2 separate regions of the Homo sapiens genome follow, and region 2 is linked to region 1. Evidence: fine-mapped expression QTL. A gene starts in region 1. The other region holds a variant in brackets. All regions are shown on one strand. Distances are between the middles of the regions.

Region 1 (15,122 bases):
TCTTTCTTTTTTTTTTTTTTTTTCTGAGATGGGGTCTCACTCTGCAGCCCAGGCTGGAGTGCAGTGGTGTGATCTCGGCTCACTGCAATCTCCAACTCCAGGATTCAAGCGATTCTCCTGCTTCAGCCTCTCAAATAGCTGGGATTACAGGCAAGCGCCACCACGCTCAGCTAATTTTTGTATGTTTAGTAGAGACATGGTTTCACCATGTTGGCCAGGCTGGTCTCTAACTCCTGACCTAAGGTGATCCTCCTGCCTCGGCCTCCCAAAGTGCTGGGATTATAGGTGCGAGCTACTGCGCCTGGCCATGTCACTTCCTTTCTCTGTCTATAAATACTGCCTGCCTATGTCACTGGGTGAGCACTCTGAAGCTTTACTGGTTCAGGTGCTGCCTGATTTATGATTCATTTCTTTGCTCAAATAAACTAAGTCTAATTTGTCTAAAGTTTTTCTTTTTATAGGTTGCTAACACAATTTCCAGCCAAAGCCAAAGAAGCACCCTCATTTTGAAATGAGGGGTGAGAAGAAATTTAATAATTTGCCAACCAAGAAATCATGCAAGAGCCACCAAAAAAACTCAGAATTTACAAATCACAGAAATTTGGCAGAGATGATTACTTTTTGTATACTTGCTGAAGAGTAACTCAGCATTTTTATTTAATCAAAGTAGATAATGAAAGATTCAAATTAAAATAAAGGTTTACACTGTCAAAATGTCATTTTATAAAAAATGGAATCCCAGAAATTTGATAGTTTCATAAAAGTACTGCCCCACCATCTAACGATTTTCAGTGAAAGCAGCATAACCACTGTGATATAATGAAGGACTCATTTAGCCATATATCAACAGAGGCTGCTGTAGACTCAATAGTATTATTAACAATCACAGCATTCAGTTTAGTTCTATTTGGCATTTTTGCGTTCAAATCACTTTATAAATATTAAAGAGTAGGAATCCAAAAATAGATTTTTTTCCAAAAGCTTTCATAAATATTTAGTTGTACAGCTTTTATCAGCTTTATTAAGAGGTTTATATAAATCCTTGAAGTAACTGTTTAATTAGTACGTTTGGGGAATGGGAAAGGAAACTTGATGGCTAAAACAGTTTTACTATTAATCTATTTCCCTTAACCAAGTCTGACTTGTGATAGCAGCAGAGAAGGTGAACGGAGCTGAAAGGTCAGAGGGATATATTTTGAAGGAGTCAGGAATAACACCACTCATTTTCAAAATCTGCAGTGTGGTCCATTTCCAAAACAGAAACCTGACTCTGCAGGAATCCGAGTGCTTCTGCCAAGATGTTAAGTCTTAGGATCAGCCATTTATAGGCCCTACAAATATACATCATTCATTTTGTAGGTTATCTCACAGTTCTTAAAAGACATTATATCTTGTTAGCCTGGATTTATACGCTGCAGCATTTCTTCAAAAATCATACAGAAACCTCAATTTCCCTTAATTCCATTTAAGGAATTCAAATTCAACACACAATACTCAGCGTGCTACAAAGGAGGAACAAATCATGGGAAAGCTGTTCTTTAGTGTAAATGAAAATGTAAACCCTCACCTGATATCACGAATACAGCTTAGTCCTAATTCCTTTACACTAATACATTCATTTGCAAATATAGAAGATTTCAAGAGCTAGTAACACAAGACTTTTGGTGGTCTTTCTTTTTTTTTTTTTTTTTTGAGACGAGTTTTACTCTTGTTGCCCAGGCTGGAGTGCAACGGCGCAATCTGGGCTCACTGCAACCTCTACCTCCCGGGTTCAAGAGATTCTCCTGCCTCAGCCTCCCGAGTAGCTGGGATTACAGGCGAGTGCCACTACGCCCAGCTAATTTTTTGTATTTTTAGTAGAGACGGGGTTTCACCATGTTGACCAGGCTGGTCTTGAACTCCCGGCCTCAGGTGATCCACCCGCCTCGGCCTCCCAAAGTGCTGGGATTGCAGGACTTTCGGCTGTCTTTGATCTTTATAAAGTATCTGTACAAGGTATCTTTATACTTTTATAGAGCATTAAAATTTTATAAAAGTATTAGCTTTATAAAAATACTAAATTACAGATGAGCTAATAGTATTTTGCTTGCTTTATTAATATACAGAACAATTATTAGCATTACACAAAAAGTAACTGCCAATAAAAGTACAGTAAGAAAAATCAGTTTTGCTATCAGTAACTTTACTAATTCGGCCAGGTGGGGTGGCTCACGCCTGTAATCCCAACACTTTGGGAGGCCGAGGCAGGCGGATCACCAGAGGTCGGGAGTTCGAGACCAGCCTGACCAAAATGGAGAAACCCCATCTCTACTAAAAGTACAAAAGTAGCCAGGCATGGTGGCACATGCCTGTAATCCCAGCTACTCCGGAGGCTGAAGCAGGAGAATCGCTTGAACCCGGGAGGCGGAGGTTGTGGCGAGCGGAGATCATGCCATTGCACTCCAACCTGGGTGACAAGAGTGAAACTCCGTTTCGTCAAAAAAAAAAAAAAGCAAAAACAAAAAAACTTTACTAATTCATTTTTAAATCATTAAAAGTATATTAAATTTAGTTTGCCAAAAAATTTTAAAGCTTTACGAGCTGCCTAAAAATGGAAGTGAACTTTTCTGAGGATCCGACAAGATGGCCGAGGTAGAGCAGAAGAAGCGGACCTTCCGCAAACTCACCTACCGCGGCACAGACTTGGACCAGCTGCGGGACGGGACGTGTCCTGCGAGCAGCTGACGCAGCTGTACAGTGCGTGCCAGCGGCCGCAAGTGAACCCGGGCCTGCGGCGGAAACAGAACTCGCTGCTGAAGCGCCTGCGCAAGGCCAAGAAGGAGGCACCGCCCATGGAGAAGCCGGAAGTGGTGAAGACGCACCTGCGGGACATGATCATCCTGCCCAAGATGGTGGGCAGCATGGTGGGCGTCTACAACGGCAAGACCTTCAACCAGGTGGAGATCAAGCCGGAGATGATCAGTCACTACCTGGGCGAGTTCTCCATCACCTATAAGCTGGTGAAGCACTGCCGGCCCGGCATCGGGGCCACCCACTCCTCCCGCTTCATCCCCCTCAAGTAGTGGCTCAGCTAATAAAGGCACACATATTTCCAAAAAAAAAAAAAAAAAGGAAGTTAAATGGATGGTTTTGCCGGGGACTCACTGCAAACACCTACAACATTCCAAGGAACCAGACCCTTCAGTAGTGCTGGATAGGTGATGGTAATGCCAACCTACACGTGTTGGAGTTTTCAACAATGCTGTGCCATAAGCTCATGAGAAGTTATAGTCTGACAATGATGATAGACTTGAATTCTGGAATCTTGGGCAGTCTGTTCCAGAAATGATACACACTGGTACTTTCATTTCAAAGTATGAAGAAAGATAAACCACATACAGGAACAGCACAAGATTCCTAACAGGTTCTGTTGAACTTAAATTGCTTTAAAGATTTTTTTGCATTATCTGAAGAGGTAAGTCCAATAAAATTATCTAACTCTTCAAAAAGTCATTACATTTAACTATGGTGATAATGAGTCAAATTTAAAAATCACTTCTTTTCCTGAAAGAATCACCAGGTTTTGGTTTTGAGAACTCTGAAGGCAAGAAGCAGGAGGATCCAGACCGGAAAGCATTGAACCAGCCCTCTCACTCCATCTTCCTACACATAAAACAGAACAAAATAAACTATTGTCATAACTCCACACAATTATATTAAGAGACTAAAAAGTAGCCTCAAAAATGGCTGGTGATGTTCAAGTAATCTACAAATACCGGGTTTTAACAAATTAAGTAGGAAACAAAAGACGGTGAGTGGTAAAGTTGCTTTGGTTAAACTCCTACTTCCTCAACTTGCCATGTGACTTTAAGCAAGTTACAAGGCGTCTCTGTCTCAGCTGCCTCATGTGAAAAATGAGGATATCAGTCCTTAACTCACTAAACTGTCAGATTTTAATTACAACAGTGCCTGGCAAATAATCATTTATTAAGACTTATTTTTTAAATGATTCCTATGAGGGCCTCCGGAATCAAACCCTTTTTAAGCAGCAGAAAGGGAATAAAATCCATATTTATATGACTATTGTCTATTAGGAATCTAAATAGGAATCATCTTACTTTTTAGGGGTTGCCTTACCCCAAATATTCTACAACTTCTGAGTTTTCTTTTTTTTCTTTTTGAGACAGGGTCCCACTGTGTCGCTTAGGCTGGGGTGCAGTGGCCCAATCACAGCTCACTACAGCCCTCACTTCCCAGGCTCACATGATCCAAGTGATCTTCCTGCCTCAGCCTCCCTATTAGCTAGGTTCACAGGCATGCACCACCACAGCCAGCTTTTTTTTTTTTTTTTTGTAGAGAGGAGGTTTCACCATGTTGCCCAGGCTGGTCTTGAACTCCTGTGCTCAAGGGATCCACCCACTTCCGCCCCCCAACGTGCTAGGATTACAGGGGTGAACCACCTTGATGGTCTGAGTTTCAATTATAAATATGACACTGGGCTGGCTGGGTCAGGCGTCTAGAAAGTGCACTAACATTGGAAGAAAGGGTGATCAGGCCTCTAGTTCCTGTTCTGCTACCGATTAGCTGTGTGACCTTTAGTAAGTTAAGAATTCTCCCAAGGCATTCTATACAACCGAGAGGGGTGGGAGAAGAGATAGTGAGGAACTAGATTTCTAAGGTAGCCATTAAAATCCTGCTAATCCTAAACAGACAATTTTAGAGGATTCTTAAGATTATCTTTCTTATAAAGGAAGGACAGGCCAGAAAAGATAGCTGTTAAAGTCAATTGACAAAGTTAAATCATATTAATGTCCTTTGTGAGCTCCATGAATGCAGAAATGGTATGTTATTTATCTGTATGATCCAGTCTACTGGCACACATTACCTACTCAAAATGCTGGTGTGCTGAACTATACGTTCGTATTTGGGAATCAACTGCACTTTTATTGGAGCTTTCTTTATAGAAGTTATTTCTCAGATATATTTCTTTCCCTGTTGCATCATACACTTTACCTGTCCCCCATTTAATTCTCGCATTAAAGTAGTGAGATACGCACTATCATTTGCATATCAGGAAACTTAAGTCCAGGCTACCTGGCTCTTAGCTGGAGAACAGACTCCAACCGAGGTCTACCTTGCCTGAAAAATCTGTGCTCTTAGCAGGGCGCGGTGGCTCATGCCTGTAATCCCAACACTTTGCGAGGCCGAGGTAGTCGGATCACTTAAGGTCAGGAGTTCCAGACCTGCCTGACCAACATGGCGAAACCCTGTCTCTACTAAAAATACAAAAATTAGCCGGGCGTGGTGGCGCATGCCTGTAATCCCAGCTACTCGGGAGGCTGAAGCAGGAGAATCGCTTGAACCCCGGAGGCGGGAGGTTGCAGTGAGCAGAGATAGCGCCACTGCACTCCAGCCTGGGTGACAGAGCGAGGCTCCATCTCACAAAAAAAAAAAAATAAAAATAAAAATCTGTGCTCTTAACTACCCTGATTTTCACCTCCCGTTAACACTTGGCAAATACATAAAGACCTATCAGCATGCAGCTCCGTGTAACGTTATGATAATAAAAACATTTATTTGGGATGATACGGTCTGCTGAGATCAGAGCTGTGATCCTCTTTTCTCTCCCAGAACTGTAACCTCTGGGGAAAAGAAAGAAGTCTCATATATGTGCCTGGGGGGCTGACTGCCTGGGGAAACGAGGGGGAACCTCAGAAACTGAGAGGATAGCGGAAGGCAGCCGGCATCAAAAACATCAGCCATGGACGAGCAATTCTGCAAACTCTTTGCAATCTGCTGGGGAGCAAAATCGGTACCCAGACAAGTCTGTGGACATGTCTGGCACCGTTTTTGGTGCAGCCACCAAGTGCCTACGAACCCCGATCCCTTGCTCCTCCGGGCCTCACTTTATCTGAAACACGGAACGAAGCTATCTAAGACCTGCCGTCGTCCCTCGGGGCTGCTGGGGTGAGAGGAGGGGCGACACGGGACGGCCCCAGGGCAAGCGCCCCGGAAAAAGCGCTTCCAAGCCAGCCCTCCCGGGCTGGAGCGAGCAGGGAGGGGAGAGGGTGGTGGACCCGTTTTCCCTTCACCCGCTCCAACACACTCAAGGAAGAGAGAGAGAAAGACATCCTGCCACAGCCATACTCACTGCCGGACAACAGTCAGAGCGAAGCGAGCCATGTTCCCGGAGCCGCGTCCCGTCGGTGGCCCCGCGCCGCGCTGCCCCTGCACTGCGGGCTACCTCCCCCACACCACTTCCGCCAAGCAGCCGGCCGGCTCCGCCGCCATAGGCCGAGGCGGCCTCGCACGTCATCCCCGAAGGCCACTCAGGGCCGGGCGAGGCCGACGGGGCGGGGGAGACGAGGGAGCCACGGGGGCCCCGCCCAGGGCTGCGGCGCTTGCGCCCCTGCGCGCCGGCCTGTGATTGGCGCGCGGCAGGTGCGGGAGGCCCCGCCCGCGGAGTCCGCGGTAGGATTCCTTCCCTCGATAGCCGGCAGCCTGCGTTCGGGGCAGATAAGGAAGCCGGCGCACTGATTTGTGGTTGTTGCGATTGAGGCTGGAATGCAACCGTTCGTCTTATAGCTGGCCACTGTGATGAACCCCTCACGGGTGTACAGCGACCAACAGACTGTGTTCTATGAGGTCTGTTAGTCCCTAACCTTAGGGACGTAGCGTCGGCCAGGTCTGTAGACTTAGACCCACCCACCCCAACTCCGCCGGGACAGACGCCCTCCGTGACCAAACTTTAGTCGGGCTCCTTTGAGGCCTTTTCTATACTAGACGGCATCCTCGGCCTGCTGAGCCTGGTTTTACCAAAGAATCCTGCTAAGCCTGTTTATCAAGAGAGACCTCACTGTTGATGCTCTCTTCTAAGGCCCTTGATATCTAGTAAAGTTCCTCCTCCCCCTCCCCCAGATAGCTTACCACGTTCTGGTAATTTCCCATCTTCTCTTTCATCCCTTCCATCCCGCCCCCTGGCTATAAATCTCCACTGGTCCCGGTTGTATTCTAGAGTCGAATTCAGTCTCTCTCACCTATTGCAGTAGTCTTGAGTAAAGTCTTGCCGTTTTTAACAAGCCTCAGATGAATAATTTCTCTTTAATAGCCTTCAGAACGTTGAGGGAGTTGCTTCATGTTAGATATGAGTTCTAAATTTCTTTTCAAAGAATCAATATGTCAGTATGTTCAATTCTTTGCTTTTTACTTTTAAACTTAACTTCCTCCTAAAGCAACCTTCTCTTTTTTATTTATTTATTTATTTTTTTGAGATGGAGTCTGGCTCTGTCACCCAGGCTGGAGTGCAGTGGTGTGATCTCGGCTCACTGCAAGCTCCGCCTCCCGGGTTCACGCCATTCTGGCTCAGCCTCCCGAGTAGCTGGGACTACAGGCGCCTGCCACCACGCCCGGCTAATTTTTTGTATTTTTAGTAGAGACAGGGTTTCACCGTGTTAGCCAGGATGGTCTCGATCTCCTGACCTCGTGATCCGCCCGCCTCGACCTCCCAAAGTGGTGGGATTACAGGCGTGAGCCACCGCGCCCGGCCACAACCTTTTTCGATTACCTGCTGCACTCTGACTCCTTCCCATTACCTACTCCACCCTGACTCCTTCCCATTACCTACTCCACCCTGACTCCTTCCCATTACCTACGCCACCCTGACTCAGATTACCTGCTCTGTCATAACTGTTTTTCCCGCCAAACCACTCACCCCCATCACTCTCTTTAGATTAGCCAATCGGAATTAGTTTAGCCTGTGCGGTGGGGCACTACACAGCAGCAGGGGCCACGTGCGTCAGGGATAAGAACCCCTTCCCCTCCCTTGTCCAAGTGTGCGCTCACCATTGCTCCATCTGTAAGGACGCACCCTTCTATAGAAGTACCTTGCCTTGCTGAGAATTAAAAAGAAAATTTTATATTCGAGTGCTATTTCTTTTGTGGCACTGAAAGTTTATTTATAACATGAGCTTCTCTAACCCTGGGTTTTGTGACAGGTAAACTGGGATAGCAGTACCTAGCAATGTGACACAAGTAACAATAATGTTAGCTAGGTGACATTGTCTTCCATGCACTGTTACCTAAATTCTTGTATTTCATAATGCATTTATTTCCTTGAATCCCCACTTATATATGAAAAGATGTGTTTAGAGAAGAGATGAATGAGATACTTAGATTCATAGGCACACATTTCAAAACAGTCTTACATGTAATATCACATTTGGCCTTCTGAACAATTCTAAGGTAGACAGGATAGGCTACATTATCTTCACTTTAGAGATGAGAAATATGGCCGGGCATGGTGGCTCACGCCTGTAATCCCAGCACTTTGGGAGGCCAAGGCAGGTCAGGAGAATCTGCAGGTCAGGAGATAGAGACCATTTTGGCTAACACGGTGAAACCCCATCTCTACTAAAAATACAAAAAATTAGCCGGGCATGGTGGCACGTGCCTGTAGTCGCAGCTACTAGGGAGGCTGAGGCAGGAGAATCGTTTGAACCCGGGAGGCAGAGGTTGCAGTGAGCCGAGATTCCAACACTGCACTCCAGCCTGGGTGACAGAGCAAGACCCCATCTCAAAAAAAAAAAAAAAGAAATATGGCCGAGAGAGAGACAGCGATTTGTCTAGGCTCACACAACTGGTCAGCGGTGACACAGAACTAGTTTAGAGGTCCTCAAACCTATCTTTACATTAGAATCGTCTGGAGACCTTTGCCAGGCTACACCCCAGAAAAATCAAATCTGAACTTCTGGGGGAAAGACTCAGGCAGCAGTATCTGTATGCTTTTAATCCCCAGCTGTTTCCAACATACAAGTGGCTGTTCTGAGAGCTAGCAGTTTAAAGCAATGCTTCACAAACTCGAACGTGCACACAAAGCAGTTGGGCATAGTGTTAAAATGTAGATTCTGGAGTTAGTAGATTGGAGTGGGGACCAAATTCAGCATCTCTAACAGCTTGCAGGTCAACAGGAGGCATTTTCAGGATGAGAGTGGAGGGATAATTCAGAGGGCCCTAACAGTGGGGCCCAGATATCGTGTGTGTGTGTGTGTGTGTGTGTGTGTGTGTGTGTGTGTGTGTGTGTGTGTGTCCGTGTCCGTGTTCTGAATGCCCAAATGAATGAATCATCCCAGCAGATTCTCCTGGAAGTTTGAGCTGAAAAAATGAAATTAAGTAGTTATCTGTGAGGGGTGAAGCAGAAAGAAAGCACAGAAAGAAATCATAGGATAGAGTTAGGGCTATGAAGGGGCATGGTGATTGAAGCTGTGAAGAAACAGAAGCCATAAATAATACAAGTGAGAGAACAGAGGAGAGGGTACGAAGAAGCAAAGTCAATGGAAGAAGCAAAGAGACACACAGAGAGACACAGACACAAGTGAGTAATGCAAGGAGTACCCAGTCACTGGTCGCTCAAACTGCCATAGTCCCAGATACCTTGAAAGTTCCGGTTTGTATAGTAAAACCTCTTTCACTTTAAGGTGGTCCAAGTGCATTTCTAACGCCTAAATAAAAACAGCTTCCCATTTTGTCTTATTTAATACACACAGTAACTCTGCAAGGTAGGAGTTATTTCCATTTCACAGATGAAGAATTAAGGCACATACAGGTTAACTAATTTCCCATTTCTTGGGCCAGGCACAGTGGCTCACGCCTGTAATCCCAGCACTTTGGGAGGCCGAGGCGGGCGGATCACTTGAGCTCAGGAGTTGGAGACCAGCCTGGCCAACATGGTGAAACCCCTCCTCCACTAAAACACAAAAAGTAGCCGGGCGTGGTGGTAGGTGCCTGTAATCCCAGCTATTCGGGAGGCTGAGGCAGGGGAATTGCTTGAACCCGGGAGGCAGAGGTTGCAGAGCCAAGATCATGCCACTGCACTCCAGCCTGGGCGACAGAGTGAGACTTCATCTCCAAAAACAAACAAACAAACAAAAACTAATTTCCCATCTCTCAAGATCTCAGAACTGAGTTTGAGACCAGATAAGTATACTCCAGGTTTCAAAACTATAAATCATGAGGGTAACTACTGGCTCTATTTCATTACTTCCTTGGTTCCTAAGAAAATGTTTGGAACACAGTGGAGATTCCATTAAAATCTGTCAAATGAATGAAGAATACCTGTTATGATCAGTTTGTCTAATGAAGCATACATATTTAAAAAAGCTGACATATTGGAGAGGATTATTGTTTTAGGAGAAATTTAGAAAGTTGCAAGGCATCCACCAATGTTATTTCTTTTAATTATCTAAGGAATAAATTAAAAAACAATTCTTCATAAATTTTAAGAATCAGGGGCCAGGCGCGGTGGCTCATGCCTGTAATCCCAGCACTTTGGGAGGCTAAGGCAGGCAGATCACTAGGTCAAGAGATCAAGACCATCCTGGCCAATATGGGCAAACCCCGTCTCTACCAAAAATACAAAAATTAGCTGGGAGTGGTGGTGTGCACCTGTAGTCCCAGCTACTCAGGAGGCTGAGGCAGAAGAATCGCTTGAACCCGGGAGGCAGAGGTTGCAGTGAGCCGAGATCGTGCCACTGCACTTCAGCCTGGCGACAGAGCGAGACCACGGCTACAAAACAAAAAAACAAAAAAAAAAACAGCAACGAAAAACTAATCAGGGGCAAAAACCAGGTTGAAAAATGAGGTGTCTTCAAAATAGTGGACATTGTCCTGCATTATTCACTCAGTGGTTCAGGGATTGCCCTTCCACTTATAAAATGAACAGGGAGTTCACTTAAACTGTATTTCAGATAGAAGCTAGAAACACCCATATATGTATGTATGTGTATATATGTGTGTGTGTGTGTGTGTGTGTATCCATATATATTCAGAGAGAAGCCAGAAATACCCCTATATATATATTTCCAGGTTCTATCTGAATTAGTTTACGTGAACTCCTTGTTCATTTTATAAGCAGGATGTGTGTACATATATGTATATATGTATATACATGTATTTGTGTGTATGTGTGTGTATACGTATATAAATACATATATAAAAAATATGTGTATATATGTTTGTTTTTTTTTTTTGAGACAGGGTTTCACTCCCATTGCCCCAGGCTGGAGTGCAGTGGTGTGCTCTCAGCTCACTACAACCTCTGCCTCCCAGGCTAAAGTGATCCTCCTGCCTCCCGCCTCCCGCCTCCCGGGTTCAAGCAATTCCCCTACCTCAGCCTCCTGAATAGCAATTCCCCTGCCTCAGCCTCCCGAGTAACTGGGACTACAGGCCTGCACCACCATGTCTGGCTAATTTTTGTATTTTTAGTAGAGATAGGGTTTCACCATGTTGGTAAGGCTGTTCTCGAACTCCTAACCTCAAGTGATCTGCTTGCCTCGGCCTCCCAAAGTGCTGGGATTACAGGCATGAACGACCACACCCAGCCATCCACCAATATATTTTGTTGACAGCCTCTCAAATCACATAACGCCTTTTTAAAAAAATGAAAAATGGTGCTTTGTTGAAGCGCATCATATGATGGCATTCTGGATTAGGCCACGTTATGCCGAGGTAACAAATTAACTCTGGAATTTCCATGGCTTCACACACAAGTGTTTGTTTTTCTTTCATGCTATATGTCTGACGTGGATCAGAAAGGGTCTTAAAGCCACATACTCATTCAGGACCTAGGGTTGACAGACATGTTAACTTCAGAAACATAAGAATTCACGATTTTTGAGGCAGGAGATGAGAATAGTTGAGGGTCTTGAACCAGTCCTTAGATGCTTCCTTCATTCATTGTCCAGAGCCACTCACGTGGCCCTACCAAATTGCAGAGGTGATGGGAAACGTGAGGTACACATGAATTGTTGGGGGGTAGACAATCCCATAAACCCTGTGCATGTTGGAGTATTGAGGATTCTGCCCTTGGCTCTCTTCTCTACTCAACTGTGCAGTCAGCTAGATGATCTAATCCAGTGTATAGATCTTAGTTATATCCCCAGCCTGGCCTTTCCCTTGAGCTCCTCATTCGTTTATCTGTTATAGTTGCCTACTCAACATCTACGCTTGGGTCTATAGTTGACATCTCAGGCTAACTTTGTCCACACAGAACCTTCCATTTTTACCCCTAAAAACAGCTGGTCTTCAAGTCTTTCTCATCTCAGTAAATGGTAACACCCTCCACTTGACTGCTCATGAAACCCTTGATTCTTTACCTATCCTAATATTCCCTGTCAAATTCATCATAGATTTCTGTAGGCTCAATAATGCAGTGAGTGCTGGATTTTACTCGTTTTCTTGCTTTTTTTTTTTTTTTTTTTTTTTTTTTTTAAGACAGAGTCTTGCTCCGTCACCCAGGCTGGAGTGCAGTGGCGTGATCTCAGCTCACTGAAACCTCCACCTCCCAGGTTCAAGCGATTCTTCTGCCCCAGGCTCCTGAGTAGCTGGGATTACAGGTACCCGCCACCACGCCCAGCTAATTTTTCTATATTTTTAGTAGAAATGGGGTTTCACCATGTTGGCCAGGCTGGTCTCAAACGCCTGACCTCAGGTGATCTGCCTGCGTCTGCCTCCCAAATCTTGTTTTCAAATAAAGATTAATTACTGTCTTCACCGAAGATGAGCCAAGTGTAAAATGCCTGATCTATTTGGAATGTAGGGTAGGGGAGGAGATTGTGGGTTGGAGCCAGTTCCCCAGGCATTTAAATATTTTCAGCAATGCATTAAGAGTGAAATTAATTACATTGTGACCAAAAGCTGGTTAGCTGGAGTCTGTGAAATTTATATTATTCTTGTTTATCTTTTTTTTATTGAAAGGGTTTTTTTTTTTCCTTAGGGGCTATTCTTGGTAGTAAGACTAAGATAGTTGCAGACTTAAATCTCCAGGACTTCAGAGATTTTCAAGGGTATACATTTTTGAAATTTACAGAGACTTGCTTTGTGGACTAGTCCACAGGCATTTCACAGAAATGTTTCGTGTGTCCTTGTGAAGAATGTGGATTCACTCATTATTGGATACAGAGTTCTATATATACGTCTGAAGCAAGCTTATTTATTGTGTCGTACATATCTTCAATAATAAATAAATGATAAAAGCTATCTATCCAAAACCTTTAAAAAAAGTTTATGGGGTCTATCACCAAATTATGTCCTGAATCCACCACTTCTGGAGTCTCACTGTGTCCCAGGCTGAGCCTTCATCACCTCTCGTCTGGATTACTGTGATAGCCTGTTGGCATAGCTCTGCTGCCTCTACTCTGGTACTCAGCCATTGAAGAGATGTCCCTATTGTGTCACTCCCTTGCTGGAGAATTCTCTATTGAATTCTCATTGCAGTTAGAATGAAGTCCCAACTCCTGCAAGGCCTATGTGGCATGGCCCCTCTTGGCCCTCCAGTTACAATTCTCTCTTCGCTGCCCCTCCTCATCCAGCTCCAGCCGTCAGGGCTTCTCTCTGTTCGTAGACCACGTCATGCTCATTCCTACCTCCGGATCTTTGCATTCTCTGTTCCTTCTGCTCACAGAGCTCTTTCCCAAGATATTTGCATGGCTGCCTCCTTCTCAGCCTTCAGGTATCAACTCAGAAGTCCCACTCTCAAGAGGTCTTCCCTCAAGCAAAGTAGGCTGCCCAGTCACTATCCATCATCCGATTTTATTCTGAAATTATATCATTTATGAACATTTTTGTAGGTTCATTGCTTGTCTTTCTTCAGCAGGATATATATTCCTTGACCGTGGGGACTGGCTTGTTCCCTTCTGTGTCTTCAGCACCTCAAGTAGTACTAGATATATTGTAGGAGCCCAAACAATTCATTAGAATCTATGGTTTTTTTTCTTTTTTTTTTTTTGGTTTGTTTCTTTTTTTTTTTTTTTTTTTTTTTTGAGACGGAGTCTTCTCTGTCACCCAGGCTGGGGTGCAGTGGCGCCATCTCAGCTTACTGCAACCTCCGCCTCCAGGGTTCAAGCAACTCTCCTGCCTCAGCTCCCACATAGCTGGGATTACAGGCATGTGCCACCACGCCCAGCTGATTTTTGTATTTTTAGTAGAGATCGGGTTTCACCATGTTGGCCAGGCTGGTCTCAAACTCCTGACCTAAGGTGATCCTCCTGCCTGGGCCTCCCAAAATGCTGGGATTACAGATGTGAGCCACCGTATCCAGCCCTAGAAATCATGTTCTTACAGAATATTTAATGGTATGATAACATTCCCCTGATAGGAGATTACATGAAAAAAGAGTAGAAAGCCATTCGTTTATGAGCCTGATTTTTAAGAAAAAATACATACATATTTTTAAAAGACAAGAAAAAATGTGTAATTTATGTCAAGAGTTTCTCTAGTTGGTAGTTATCATGTTAAAAATGCTTGTTCTGCTCTATTACTAAAGAATTTATTTCCTGAGACACATGCATACAAATAAGCAAGGTGTCTTTCACAAAGAAAATTATCCAGAGGGTGGGTGATGGAGAACATATAAACTGTTCTATGTGGCTACTCACACATACTAAAGCAAGGCAACTTACTATTTTTACTATGTAATAGAATACAGCTGAGAATTTTTTTTTTAAAAAAAACCTTAGTTGAGGGGTAGTATGTTCCTGGTATTTGTTCTGTTTATTTTTAATTAGGTCACTTTATGATTCTAAGATAAAGCTCTTTAAGACTTACCAGAATAGAGGCAGGGTGCAGTGGCTCATGCCTGTAATCCCGGCACACTTTGGGAGGCCAAGGCGGGCAGATCACTTGAGGTCAGGAGTTTAAGACCAACCTGGCCAACATGGCGAACCCCTGTCTCTACTAAAAATACAAAATTAGCTGTGCATGATAGTCCCAGCTACTTCGGAGGCCGAGGCAGGAGAATTGTTTGAACCTGGAAGGTGGAGGTTACAGTGAGCCAAGATCGTGCCACTGCACTCCAGACTGGGTGACAGAGCAAGACTCTGTCTAAAAATATACGTATATTATTAAGACTTACTAGAATAGAGACAAGAGGATTTTAAGTTTCAGAATAAAAATGGACAGACAAAACTGACATCAGATAGTACAGACTGAGAGTGTTTGGGACCAACTGAGAACTGTGGTTTTTGTGATTACCCAAGTTATTTATAACACCACTACTTTGCTTTTTTCTTCTATTGCTTTGAAGTTGGAAATTGTAGTGGTTTATGCAGACTTAATAAAAGAGAAAGTCTTGGGCTTTTACTGGCAGGGAT
Region 2 (15,122 bases), 35 kb before region 1:
AACACTACTTTAGCCAAGTGATCAAGGTCAACATCAACAATCAAATGAAACAAGTCGTATTTATATCATCTACACTTGATATGATGTAATGAAAATGGAACTTTACAGGCCAGGCGCGGTGGCTCATGCCTGTAATCTCAGCACTTTGGGAGGCTGAGGCAGGTGGATCACATGAGGTCAGGAGTTCAAGACTAGCCTGACCAACACAGAGAAACCCCATCTCTACTAAAAATACAAAATTAGCCGGGTGGTGGCTCATGCCTGTAATCCCAGCAACTCAGGAGGCTGAAGCAGGAGAATCGCTTGAACCCGAGAGGCAGAAGAGTTGCGGTGAGCCGAGATCGTGCCACTGCACTCCAGCCTGGGCGACAAGAGCAAAACTCTGTCTCAAAAAAAAAAAAAAAAAAAAAAGAAAGAAAGAAAAGAAATAAAATGGAACTTTACTTTTCAATAACCCCAGTCTAATCATGAGAAAAATATCAAACAAATTCCAACAGACAGTCATCCTACAAAACGCCCGACTAGCACTTCTCAAACTCCCAGGGTCATTAAAAAAAAAACAAAGAAAGTCTGAGAAACTGTTACAGGCAAGAGGAGTCTAAGCACAGAAAGGCAAACACTGCATGATCTCGCTCATATGTGGGAGCTAACAAAGTTGATCCAATAGAAGGAGAGAGAACAGTGGTTACCAGGAGCTGGAAAGGGGAGGAGAACACGGACAGGGAGAGGCTGATTCATGGGCTCCAAATTATAGTGAGATAGAAGGAATAAGTTCTAGTGTTCTCTTGCACTGTATGGTGACTATGGTTAGCAATACTTCATTGCACATTTTCAAATAGCTAGAAAAGAGGATTTTGAATGTTCCCAACACAAAGAAATGAGCAACGTTTGAGGTGATGGATATGCCAATTACCCTAATTTGATCATTACATGTTGTATACATTTATCAAAACATCACTCTATACCCCATAAATATGTACAATTATGTGTCAATTTTTTAAAAAAGCAAGGGTAGTTGCACAACAGTGTGAATGGACTTAATGCCACGGAATTGTCTACTTAAAAATAGTTGATTTGGTAAATGCTGCTATGTATACTTTCCACATTAAAAAAGCAAGGGTAATGAAATGTATACACACACACACACACACAAGGAACCTAAGAAGACATGACAAGTAAGCATAATGTGGTATCCTGGATGGGATTCTGGAATAGAAACATGCCATTAGGTGAAAACTAAGGAAATCTGAATAAACTATGGGCTTTGGTTAATAATGTGTCAGTATCAATTCATTAACATAAGATGTTAATAACAGAGGACACTGGATGCAGGTGTATGGGAATTCTACATATTGTCTCAATTTTTCTATAAATCTAAAAACTGCTCTAAAAAGTATATTTTTAAAAAATTTATGTGGAAATACAAAGGACCTGCAATGAGCCAAAACAACAACCACCACCCTGAAAAAGAACAAGTACATAGGTGACTTATACACTGATTTCAAGACTTGCTATGAATGTAGAATAATCAGGACAGTGTGATATTTGCATATGGATAGACAAAAAGATAAATGGAATTAAATAAGGAGCCCAGCAATACACCAACACTTACACAATAAGTTGAATTATGACAAAAGAACCAAATAAATTCAAGGGAAAAGAAAAGTCTTTTCAACAAATGCTGCTAGAACAATTTGATATCCAGGTAAATAACCATAAGCCTGAACCTGCTACCTCATACCACACACAAAAATTCCAGATGGATCAAGACCTAAATATAAAACTTATAAATCACAAATCTTCTAGAAGAAAACAGAGTCTCCATGACCAGGGGATAGACAAAAATTTCTTTGACAAAAAAAAAGCAATAATCATAAAACAAACACAATGGTAAATCAGTCTTATGAAAATCAACAACTTAAAAAAATTGATAAATGGTAGAATAACATATTTTATAATAAATATACAGACTGGAATAAAATTATATATATGTAGATACATGTGTATATATACACACACACACACACACATACACACATACATACACACACACACATCTGACAAAGAACTTGTATACCCAAAACATATAAAGAACTCCTACAACTCAAAAATAAAAAGATGACACAATTTTTTAATGGATAAGATTTTAATACACATTTCACAAAGAAAGCTGTATGAATGATCAATAAGAATTGTACATTAAAAAGCATTCCATATCACCAGTTAAAATTGCAGGGATATACTACCATACAACAATCAGAATGGCTAAAATTTTAGAAACTGATAATAACAAATGTTGGCAAGGATGTGAAGCACCTAGAACTCATTGTTGATAAGCATGAAATGGTACAACCACCATGGAAAAAGATCTGGCAAGTGTCTTATAAAACTAAACATACACCAACATATAACCTATAACTCAGCAATTCCACTCCCAGATTATTTACCCAAGAGAAATGAAAACATACGTCCGCAAAAAGACTTGTAAAAATATTTATAGCAGCTTTATTCATAATAGCTCCAAACTAGAAATGGTCCTTGTGTTCCGTCAATGGAAGAATAAACAAACTGTTGTGTATCTATGCATTGGAATTCAATGCAGTAATTTTTTTAAAGGCACTATTAGCAATGAGCACCCTGGCACCGAGATCTTGGTTTCTAAATACCATGCACACCAGGCGTCTTTCATTTCATTTCCAAAGAACCAGGGCTCTTTAGAGAAAAAGCTGATTCTGGGGCTGGGGCTCGGGAAGAATGAGTCTGGAGCATATTGTTAATACCAGAAAGAAAGTACTTAAAGAAGGATGAGATTATGTCACCAGAACATAAGAGCCAGCCTGAAAGGGTTCCCACAGGACAAAGTTGGGACTGTGTAACCATAAAATAATAAGAGTACTGTATTATAAGCCCCTGAATAAGAACTTCTGAGCTCATACTGACATAAATAAGTAGGCAAGAAGGGTAAAGCTGTCTTAGTACAGAATGCCAACTAATAAACATAGAAGCAAAAGTAGAGTCATGGCGTGAGTTGGCTAAAGAAAAAAAAAACAGAGTCAGAAAATAAACAATAAAGGCTAAAAGAGTAGTTGCAAATTTAATGAGGAACCAGACATATTGATACAACGTCCTGTCCCTCCTGACATGACCAAGGACACATCCTTTCTGGGCTGCTTCTGACAAAAGTATACAATCCAAATCTAATAATGAGGATATGTCAGGAAAAAAAACCACAAGAACTCACCTATTTTTTAAAAAGTAACAAGATCAAGAAAGACAAAGTTCATCTGGTTAGATAGATGGTGGGAGAAAAAAAGAAGGGCAAAGGAAGGCAAAGGAGTAGACGGAAGGACATGAAGAAACATGACAACTAAATGCAACACAACACACAGTCCTGGATTGATTGGATTCTTGATTCAGAAAAAAAAAAAAAGCCACAGGTACATCAACAAAATAATTGACAGAATTTAAATTTGGTCTAAGGATTAGCTAATAGGCAATATCAATGTCAAATTTCCTGACTCAGATATTTATTCTGGGTTATATATAAGAACATTGTTGATCTCAGGAAACACACATTGAAATTTTATAGGGGAAGAGTATGAGGACTCAAAGTTACTCTCCAATGTTTCAGGGGAAAACAGAGGGAGAGAGAAAAAATGGCAAAGCAAGTGGGACAACAGGTAAGCAAGTGGTGAATAAGTGTGAAGAGTATACAGCCATTCCTTCTACTGTTCTTGCAACTTTTCTGTAGGTTTGATAAATCCAAGATAAAAGATTACCAAAACACACGCACATACACATTACTGTAATTATTCTCTATGAGGATACAGTAGCTCAGTGATTTTTCTTTTTCTTTTTTTTTTTTTTTGGAGACGCCCAGCTAATTTTTGTATTTTTAGTAAAGACAGGGTTTCACCATGTTGGCCAGGCTGGTCTTGAACTCCTGACCTCAGGTAATCCACCCACCTTGGCCTCCCAAAGTGCTGGGATTACAGGCCTGAGTCACCATGCACAGCCCATTATTTATCAAATGATTTTTTTTTTTTTTTTTTGAGACCCAGTCTTGCTCTGTCACCCAGGCTGCAGTGCAGTGGCGCGACCTTGGCTCACTGCAAGCTCCACCTCCCGGGTTCACGCCATTCTACTGCCTCAGCCTCCCAAGTAGCTGGGACTACAGGCGCCGGCCACCAGGCCTGGCTAATTTTTTCTATTTTTCAGTGGAGACGAGGTTTCACTGTGTTAGCCAGGATGGTCTCTATCTCCTGACCTCGTGATCTGCCCGCCTTGGCCTCCCAAAGTGCTGGGATTACAGGTGCGAGCCACCACGCCCAGCCACCTCAGCGATTGCTTGGTCACAAAATTACTAAGAACCAGGCCTTGAACCTGAATCCAGGCCTTCTGACAATAGATCTTTCCAGTGTCCCTGCCCTGTCACTTATCAATGAAGAAATCACCCCCTTAGGCCATATTGCTGAACAATGAACCAAGTGATTGAGAACTGTGGGGGGAAATCCTAAAGTTTTTAAAGCACTGGTAGTTACCTGTCATGACGACCTACTTAGCCATCTTGTTTGGACACAAAGGAACTGACACATACTTCAATCTGAAAGCTGTACTTCCAAATTGATGGGGCCCAAAGAAAGAGGGGTAAAAAGCAACATTTACATGAAACAAGGATGTTTTCTAGGAGCCCCATTCAATTTCCAAACTGGTAAGTGCTGCGTCTGATAGCAGGTACTCAGCCCAGCACCACCGCTCTACTGAATACTTCTTTCCTTTGCATCTCCTGTGTCTGTGCTTAACAGGGCTGATAATTATGCCAGGTGGATTCACCTAGGATGATCTATTTCAATTAAATTGTGACTGACCTTAATATAGTGAAGACATATAATAGAACCATTTAACTTACACGAATTCATCTACTTGTAAATGTAATATGCATGCAAGTATACATAATATAAGCATATGTACTTAAGTGATATGGCCAAATATTGCACTTCCTGCATAAGCCTAAGCCATGGAATGGGTGTGAGATGCACTGTTCTCTCAGGGATATCTTACTTTATGTGCTTCCCCTAATATGAGCATGTCCTTGCTGAGTATGACATAGCATTTAAAGAAATTAGAATAAAGATGCTAACTAAAACAGGTTTTTAGTTAAAAAGCAATAAAGGAGAATCCTCATCCAAAAATGGAAATGAATAGTAGGTGAGTGAGGAGTGGGAAGGACAGGAAAATAAGAGACAGGTGAATGGGAGCCATGGTTTCGACTCCAGGTGCAAGGGAGCCTAAGCGACAGGCTCTGCTTGAAGCTGCGAGCCTGGGGTGAAGCCTGGAACTGGAAACTTCTGCCCATTCCCTCTGCTAGGCCTCGGACTAAACCTAACAGAAACAGGCAAGACAAGGTGGGAAAGATGAGTACAGGGAACACAGAGGACTTTTAGGGCAGTGAAAATACTCTGCATGATACTATAATGGTGGAATACATGTCTTCATACGTTTGTCCAAACCCACAGATCATGCAACACCAAGAATGAACCCTAATGTAAACTATGGGTTTCAGGTGATGTGGATATGTCAGTGTAATGTGGGCTCACCGATGGTAACAGATGCACTGGTCTGGTGGGGGATGTTGATAGTAGGAGAAGCAATGCGTGTGTAGGGGCAGGGGATAGATGGGAAATCTCTCTACCTTCCTCTCACTTTTGCTGGGAAATTAAAGTTTCTCTTAAAAAATTAAGTCTCTTAAAAAATTCATTTGTTAAAAAACAATCAAAAACCGGGAAAATATTACAAATAAAATATCATTGCATAAAAGACTCAGGCAAAATGAGAGATCTATGACATTCACAGATGGGAGGATGAGAAATCCTAAGCTAACCTAGAAATTCAATGTCCAGGCTCCTTAGTTAGCCATTGGAGGCACTCTGGCCTGGTCCCTGCCAACATCCCTGGCCTTGCTTCTTCAAATGGCCCAACAGCCAGTGCTGCCATCTTCCCTGCCTCCAACCTTGTGCTCCTATAGCACCCCCTACAGCCTGCTCTCCACATTGCAAGCAGGATGGTCCTGCTGAAACAAGTCTGATCACATCACTGCCCAAACTGGCCAATGGCATCTCATCTCACTTGAGTAAAAGCCCAAGGCCTCAGCACAGGCCACCAGGCCATGTGGCCTGTCCTCTTCTCCCGTCACTCTCCCATCCCCCTTGCTCAAAGGAGTCAAGCCTGATCCTTCCTCATGGCCTCTGCACTCTACTCCTTCCATGCTGCTCCTCTCCCCAGAGCAGCAGATCTTACATCCTTCAGTGCTGACACCATCGAGTCCTCCCTGCCCATCCTGGATAAAGCAGCATTCCTCCCACCAGTCTCCATCCCCCTTACTCTGACCTATTTTGCTCAACAGCACTGACCACAATGTGAGCCAACACACTGTCTTCTCTGACAGAACAAATGTTCCACAAGGACAGAGACTTTGTTTTGGTTCATGGCTACATATTCACAGCTTTATCATAGTTGTAGTAGTTCTTAAAATAGCCTGGCATGTGTGTGCCATGCTCAAAAAATACGTATTGAATAGATGAAGAGATGCATGTGACTCCAATAAAATTTGTAACAGAATTTTTCTGGAAATTGACCAATTGATTCCAAAATTTATATGGAAGAATAAAAGTGCATAAATAGTTAAGACAACTTTAAAAATGAACAAGAGGAGGTATCCACCCTTTAAGACAGTCAGCTGCAAAGCCACAGTAACTAAGTATGACACTGATAAGGAAATACACAGATAACTAAAAGAGTCCACAGACTCTAGCAAATGAGGGGGTGTGAGGCCTGAGAGCACACACCACAAACCAATTGGGAAAGAACAGCCTTTACAATGGTGTTGGGATAACTGTTTCAACCACATGAAAAAAAAAATTAAATTCTTACCTTATACTATAAAAAGCAAATTTCAATTTCAAGATTTGACATTCAGAAGTTCTCAAAAACTGTAAGAAGACATTACTGTATGACCTCATGGTAGAGAAGTCTTCTTAAAGATACACACCAAAAAAACCCCATAAAGGATAAGGTATATTGGTTTGTCTTAAAAATTAAGAACACATATTAAAAAAATGCATCATAGGCCAGGCACGGTGGCTTATGCCTGCAATCCCAGCACTTTGGAAGGCCAAGGCAGGTGGATCACCTGAGGTCAGAAGTTCAAGACCAGCCTGGCCAACATGGCGAAACCCCGTCTCTACTAAAAAAAAAAAAAAGGCCAGGCGTGGTGGTGCATGCCTGTAGTCCCAGCTACTCAGGAGGCTGAGGCACAAGAATTGCTTGAACCCGAGAGGTGGAGGTTGCAGTGAGCCAAGATCACGCCATTGCACCCCAGCCTGGGCAACAGAGAGAGACTCTGTCTCCAAAAAAAAAAAAAAAGAAAAAAAGCAAAGAAAATAAAAACTGAATATACCTAAATGCCCACTAATAAACAAAAATGTGCTATATTTAATAGAATAGAGTGGTTATAATTAACTAGATCTATATATATCAACACAGAGATGCCTCCAAGACATAAGTAAAAATAAAGAACACAGATGGCTTGATATTTA[T/G]TTTTAAAGCACCAAAACAGTACCATCTCCTTCCAGACACTAGGTGAAAATATAAGGAACAGATGAACATTGCAAGCAGATGAACAGGTGAACATATACACAGACTCACTGCAGTGGCTGCCTCTGGAGGGAACAGGACTGTGAGAGCTGGTTAAAGAGAACTCTACTTTTATCTTTATGTTTTGTTTCTTTAAAAAAAAAAGTGGAAAGATGACTTCAGTATGGTGGGAATGGAGATAATTATTGTCTGTCCTTTTTGCTTATTTTTCAAATTTTTATTTACAGTATACTTCCTCTGATGCTCAAACACGTGCCCTGTTTCAATACTGGTAGAAAACTGGTAGTGCTAGACACACTAAGAACAATATAATACTGAATTTTACATATGATTTAAAATGATGTCAAAGTAAATTTTGACTATATGTGACTATAGCCTTAACTGACAACTTTAGTATTAACCCTCTTTAAAGTTGAGACTCACAGCATTTAGCAACATGGTGACTTAAAAGCGAACTACATGTAGAACAGTTTCTTCATTTAGATAAAGATTTCTGAAAGACCAATCTTGTGTATAAAATTAAGTTAATCAAAATCCCTTTTCTCCAGTGCCATCTGGTGGAAAGAAGAGGCAACCTCACCTGTACCTGCCACAAAATAACCACAGCTGTGGTTATCAGAGCAACATTCTCTCCCCCCCAACCACCCCGCCTTCCCTGCCCGCAGAGCACCCTCTGTCATCCCCTCTGTCACCTAGGCTGGAGTGAAGTGGTGCGATCTCGGCTCACTGCAACCTCCACCTCCCGGGTTCAAGCGATTCTCCTGCCTCAACCTCCCAAGTAGCTGGGATTACAGGCGCCTGCTACCACGCCTGGCTTTTTTGTATTTGTAGTAGAGACAGGGTTTCACCATTGTTGGCCAGGCTGGTCTAGAATTCCTGACCTTGTGATCCGCCCGCCTCAGCCTCCCAAAGTGCTGGGATTACAGGTGTGAGCCACTGGGCCCGGCCCAGAGCACCATTCTTTACAAAGAAGGCCCCTCTTTTATTCTGATTACTGTGTGGTGTTCTGTTAACTGTTTACTTTCTTTAGAGCCTTCCTCAAACTGGAAATTCTTCAGCCTACAGGTTAGATAAGAAGCAAGTGGATATTCTTCATTTTTTTGGCTTTCCTGGTTTCCATTGACTTGACTTTGGCAAGGCATTATTTAGAAAAGGCTGTTCTTCTATCTTCTGCTCCAAGATTCTTTCTTTACTGTATTTAAATCAAATGTTTTAACTTCTTCCCCCAGACCATTCTGCAATCATAATCTGTATTCATCCACATTTCAAGCCCTCTAGAATAAAAAATTCCAATAGTTGATTTATACGTAAAACATGTTAGTGTTATTTTGCTTTACATAAACTTATAAGGATTTTTTATTTAAAGGATTTAAAAATATAACACAGTCAATATAAACATGTACTGGGAATTATAAACCATTCTTTCTTCTAAGCACTGGATGAGATACTAAAAACATACAGTATCTTACCAATAGCCATTAAAATAGGCTAAAATGAAAAAGAAACCGTTGTAACAAGGTTACTAATCCCCCAACTTTCAATGCTGAGTTCCTTCATCATCCATGTGCAATCCAGAGATGACATCTAGCAGGGTGGTAAAATTATTCTGGAAAATGCCAACTGTACTTGGACAAAATAAGTTAATTCTATATGGTTGTCCATTAAAGTTTTATGTGGCTATGGTTCCACTGGAGCTAAAAATTGGCTTTTAACTGTTTCCAAATCAGAACTAGCAGAGGAGAGAAGTAAATAAAGCCAATGGCACTCCCTTCAGAGGCTCAAAATGGTTAGATTTTGATGCAGATTTAACCTTAGCGAGTTTCAGTCAGTCCATTTAGATGATCCTGTAGGTTCATACAAATACACTGAACCGTTGGTTTAACTTCTCTTCCTTCCTCAAAGTTTATGATAAAGAGACTCATCCCTGTATTGGGAGTGACTGACATAAGTTCAGATCTGCTCAGAGTGGCTGGTAAGGAACACTTAAGGTCAGTCAGAAAATAATCAAACAGACTTCTCATGTAAGCACCGTGACTCACAACTAAGACACTGGCTGCTAATCCTGGAATACCGCTGTCTGAATTAACTTTAGAGCTGTGATTTTTTCCTAAAGGAAATATCTCTGCCAAAGAAGTTTCCAGACAGTTGCTTGGAGATCCTTGGGAAAACTGTTCTTTTTGATCCGCTTCTTTCAGGATTAGTTGACAAAGAAATTCAAAAAAGTCTATTCCACGCATTTTCACCTACAAGAAAAGAAATAAAAGTCAAAATAAAGTGACATTAATGACTTCCTTAAAACGTTAACATAGAACATAACTGACTGGATTTTTTTCTAATATTGAATGCCAAGTACTACACAAGCAGAAGAATATCAATCTACATTTCTATTCGTTCAATCAGTAGTTTCATGGACATATATAAGTATCCACCACATTTCTGGAATTACAAAAGCACCATGGAGACCAAGATGAAGAAGATCCAATTCCCAATTCCTGAGTTCAAAGCACTCACGGTCTAGTTAGGGAAATCTACAAGCCAACAGAAACTCATAAAACAGTGCTAACCAGGAAGCTGTCTCTGGCACTTCAGTGCCACTGGAACAACAGCAGCAACAAATCCTTCCCTTACTAAAGTAATGGAAAGTATTTTCAAGAAAATTAAGATAAAGATTAAGGAGGTGGTGGTGGGTTAGGGGGAATCACCAATATGCAATTCGAAGCAGAACACTCCAAAGAAATGCAAGCACAGGGATGCCACCATGAACAGAGCTGAGGAGGCAGCAGAGGCTTGAAGACTTCATGTTTTGAGTTATTTCACCTCGAGTGACTTGCCGATCACCCTCTTTGAACTCCACTCCCACCACTAAGCCACTGCTTCATATTCAAAGGTCTTTTTTAGAAGTACCATCTAATAACACCTTTCCTTAAGTCCATTATCAATAATGACAAAGGCAACTGAACAGTAAATAAGATTTTAAATAGAAAAGAATAATTTGCTAAGTAAATAGATAATTTAAAATGGAAAAGAGAATGAACCAAGCAACTTTCAAACTGCTTAGCTAAAATTCCAAAACATCTAATTTTGAGTCTTAATTCAACCATTCTGACATCGGCAGCGCCACATACCTGGTCCAGCGTCTCTCCTCCGGGCGGTGTAAACACAGGGCACTCTTCCCTGGCTGCTTTGGCCATGGCCCTCAGCTCACTTAGCGCTTTGCCTTCTACAACCCCGTATTTCTGAAACAGTCCAATAGATAACAGTTTCTCAAATGAAATTGCAATATAACAATTAAGTTTATGTTTATGGCAAATTTAGAACATTCATCCCAGGAATAAGCTAACTCTCCTCCACTTAATTGATTCTATCTCCTCTGAACTGATAATGAGAATGTACTCAGTAGAGGGCCATGAACCTTAGAAAATATAATTGAAATCTTAAGTTGTACACTATGTCCAAATGGGTTATTTTAGAAGAACTTGCTATTGCAAGCAGATGGTGGGAATTTATTGAACAAATACAGAGATTTGCACAGATTATAGGACTAGAGATTAACATGCACAAGGTACCAATTCAGCCATCTCCCATCCACACATACTACACCATTTGATCCCAATGACAGCACCATGAAATAGCTAAATAAATATATCACCATAGTTATAAGGAAGTTGAGTTTCAGAGACGCTAACATGAGAGATCTATTTCTTTTTTTTTCTTTTTTTTTTTTTTGAGACGGAATCTCGCTCTGTCACCCAGGCTGGGGTGCCGTGGCGCGATCTCAGCTCACTGCAACCTCCGCCTCCTGGGTTCAAACGATTCTCTTGCCTCAGCCTCCCGAGTAGCTGGGACTACAGGCGCGTGCCACCACACCCGGCTAATTTTTTGTATTTTTAGTAGAGATGGTGTTTTACCATGTTAGCCAGAATGGTCTCAATCTCCTGAACTCAAGTGATCTGCCCACCTTGGCCTCCCAAAGTGCTGGGATTACAAGCGTAAGCCACCACGCCAGCCACATGGCAACATTGTTAAGCTATTAAATTGGAAAATCACAGAGTCTAATAATACCAATTGTTGGTGTAAAAAAACAAAACTTTCTCCTAGGTCATTCATGGGACTATAAATTGGCACAGGTTTTCTGGAAGGCAACTTGGCAATATGTATATAAATGCCTTTAAAAAAGTACACACTCGCCGATGTCCATTTCTAGAAATATATAGGTCTACAATAAATTAACTACAAAGATGTTTATTTTGACATTATTTACATCAGTGGTAGTCTAGTGAAAATCTAGCTTTCCATCAGCGTAGCTAGGTTACATAAATTATGCAATATCCATATTTTTCACCTTTACTTTAAACTCTTCTATACTGTGTTAAGTTCTTATGAGCGTACCTTCTTTTATACCTTAAGATGCTTGTCTCGTTTGATTTTAATAATAAGATCCTATATACGAGGGTATGTAACAGTGACTGTCATATGGTAGATTCTTAAATATTTTCACTGATTCGAAATCCCTAGCAGAAATGCATTTAACTTTTAGCCAAGTGACAAACTGAGGTGGCTTACTGATAATTTATGGGGAAGAACAATATGTAAATAAGTTACTCACCCTTTCCCGAAGTCTTGAGTCATACTTTACCGTCATATCTTTGCAAAATTTGCTTCTCTCCAAAATTCCATGCATGGTCTGAAAATCAAGACAATTGTTTCTTTCTTTATAAAAATAATCACCATTCTGGTGGAAGCACTGAAAGAATCTATGTCATCTTAGTGAATAAAAAAGAACTAGAACCAGGCACGGTGGCTCACACCTGTAATCCCAGCACTTTGGGAGGCTGAGGCGGGTGGATCATGAGGTCAGGAGATCGAGACCATCCTGGCCAACATGGTGAAACCCTATCTCTACTAAAAATACAAAAAATTAGCCGGATGTGGTGGCACGCACCTGTAGTTCCAGCTACTCGGGAGGCTGAGGCAGAAGAATTGCTTGAACCTGGGAGGCGGAGGTTGCAGTGAGCTGAGATTGCGCCACTGCACTCCAGCCTGGGTGACAGAATGAGACTCCATCTCAAAAAAAAAAAACAAAACTAGAAATGATTTTCCTTTGCAAAAGTTGCCTCTCTGTGTACATCTGTGTACACATCTGTGTCTCTTCATTCCTGATTTTGATATTCTCTTCTAACCTATCTTTTAGTTCAGAAGTCAGCACAATCCAGACCATCATCTGCTTTTGCAAATAAAGTATTTTACTGGGACACAGCCACAGCATTCATTCATGCACAGTTGATGGCTGCTTTCTTGCTATTACCGCAGACTTGAACAGGTGTTAACAGAGACTGTATAGACTATAAACCCTAAAAAAAAATTACTATCTGGCTCTTTACAGAAAATGTTTACTAATCCCCATTCTAATTCCTTAATTCGCCATTCAAATGTGTCTAAATTGTTGTTAAACCCATCCATTGAGCCTTAATTCCAATTGTATTTTTAGTTCTAGAATTTGCATTTGGCTCTTTTTTACAGTTTATTACAGTTCTGTACTGAAATTCTACATCTTTCACCTATACAAAAATATAGTTATTTTAAAGCTCATGTCTGGTAACTCCATCGGGTAAGTCATGTGGCTGTTTCTGTTGTCTTTAGCTCATTTTTATTCACATTTCCTTCTCTCATTGTAAGTCTAGCAATTTTTGATTGACAAGCGACCCTGTCACATAGAAATAATTTAGGTCCATGATCTGCCTTTTTTAAAAACACATTTCCCAACAAATTAGACATCATCATCATACTGTTTTATATGTACTGTCAATATTTCCTTGTATTTTCCTAAACCTTTACCAACTTCTTTGCTCACTATTCTTTTCTGAAACTCAGATCTCCCTTCTGCAATTATTTTCCTTCTTTTTCATTTTTCCTTTCAAAGTTACTTCAGAATCTCTTTGTCTGAAATGTCATTTCACCTACACAGCAGAAAAAAATCTTGCTGGGTATAAAACTCTAGGTTAATCCTTGTTATTTCTCAGCACAATAAAGAAATCATCAATATGAACAAATTTGCTGACAGCCTAACTAATGGTCTTTAATAAAGGATGGTTTTTTCCTCATTCTTTGGAGTCTTGCAATTTTGCTATAATGAATGTAGATATGGGTTTCTTTACTTATCCTGGTTGGGATTTGGTACACTTCTTGGATCTTTCAACAATTCTGTAAATTCTGTAAAATTGTCAATATTCTGTAACCTCTGAATATCACCTCTTCCTCCCATTCTCTCTGCTATCTCTTTCTGAAAGACATTAGAACTTCTCATCATGCTCTTCATGTCTTCTAATGTCTCCTATTTTATTTATTTTTTAAAGGGACTTTTTTTTTTGAGACAGGGTCTCGCTCTGTCACCCAGGCTGGAGTGAAGTGACACAATCACGATTCACTGCAGCCTCAACTACCTGAGCTCAAGTGATCCTCCCACCCCAGCCTCCCAAGTAGCTGGGACTACAGGCAAGTGCCACCACACTCAGCTAACTTTTTTATTTTCTGTAGAGACAAGGTCTCCCTATGTTGCCCAGGCTGGTCTCAAACTCCTGAGCTCAAGTGATCTTCCCGCTTCGGCCTCCCAAAGTGCTGCAATTTCAGGCATCAGCCACTGTGCCCAGCTAAACTCTCATATTTTAAATCTATCATGCCGTGCTACATTTAGGTTATTATCATATATTTATCTATAATGATCACTTCAGCCGTGTGTGATCTATACTTCAGTACTTCCACTGAGGTTTTCATTTTTTGGCTTTTTTCTGTTTGTATTTTAATTTTTAATTTTTGTGGGTATACAGTAAATGTATATATTTATGGGGCACATGAGACACTTTGATACAGCCATGCAATGCATGACAATCACATCCTGGTAAGCAGGGTATCCATCCCCATAAGCATTTATCCTTTTTGTTACGAATGATCCAATTATATCCTTTTAGTTATTTTCAAATGTACAATTACATTGTTATTGACTATAGCCACCCTGTTGCGCTATCAAATACTAGGTCTTATTCATTCTTTCTTTTTGTACCCATTAACCATCCCCACTTCCCCAACACCTCCCCCTACTACCTTTCCCAGACTCTGGTAACCATCCTTCTACTCTCTATCTCCATGAGTTCAATTGTTTTAATTTTTTGCTCCAACAAATAAGTGAGAACATGACAAGTTTGTCTTTCTGTGCCTGGCTTACTTCACTTAACATAATGACCTCCAGTTCCATCCATGTTGTTGCAAATGACAGGATCTCATTCTTCTCTGTGGTTGAAAAGTACTTCATTGTTTGTGTGTGTACATTTCCTTTATCCATTCATCTGCTGATGGACATTTGGATTATTTCCAAATCTTGGCTACTGTAAAAAGTGCTGCAATATGGGAGTGCAGATATCTCTTCAATATCCTGATTTCCTTTCTTTGGGTACATACCTAGCAGTGGAACTTCT

What was found. PIP is the estimated chance that this variant, and not a neighbour inherited with it, causes the effect.
Region 2: its variant is fine-mapped to the expression of TIGAR in whole blood (INTERVAL, PIP 0.99).

The regions. Positions count from the first base shown.
Region 1 is chr12:4,312,312-4,327,433 of GRCh38, reverse strand. It overlaps TIGAR (TP53 induced glycolysis regulatory phosphatase), which reads right to left and starts at 6,221. Exons shown (of 6, transcript NM_020375.3): 1 at 6,131-6,221. The coding sequence starts at 6,162. It also overlaps the pseudogene RPS15P7. RefSeq lists a silencer at 6,131-6,510 and an enhancer at 5,976-6,629.
Region 2 is chr12:4,347,034-4,362,155 of GRCh38, reverse strand. TIGAR (TP53 induced glycolysis regulatory phosphatase) reads right to left here. Exons shown (of 6, transcript NM_020375.3): 4 at 12,260-12,337; 5 at 10,779-10,889; 6 at 2,128-9,896. The coding sequence ends at 9,465. Among named protein-coding and RNA genes, the nearest start is that of FGF23, 25 kb to the left of the region's middle. The variant T/G (reference allele first, on the strand shown) is at 7,596.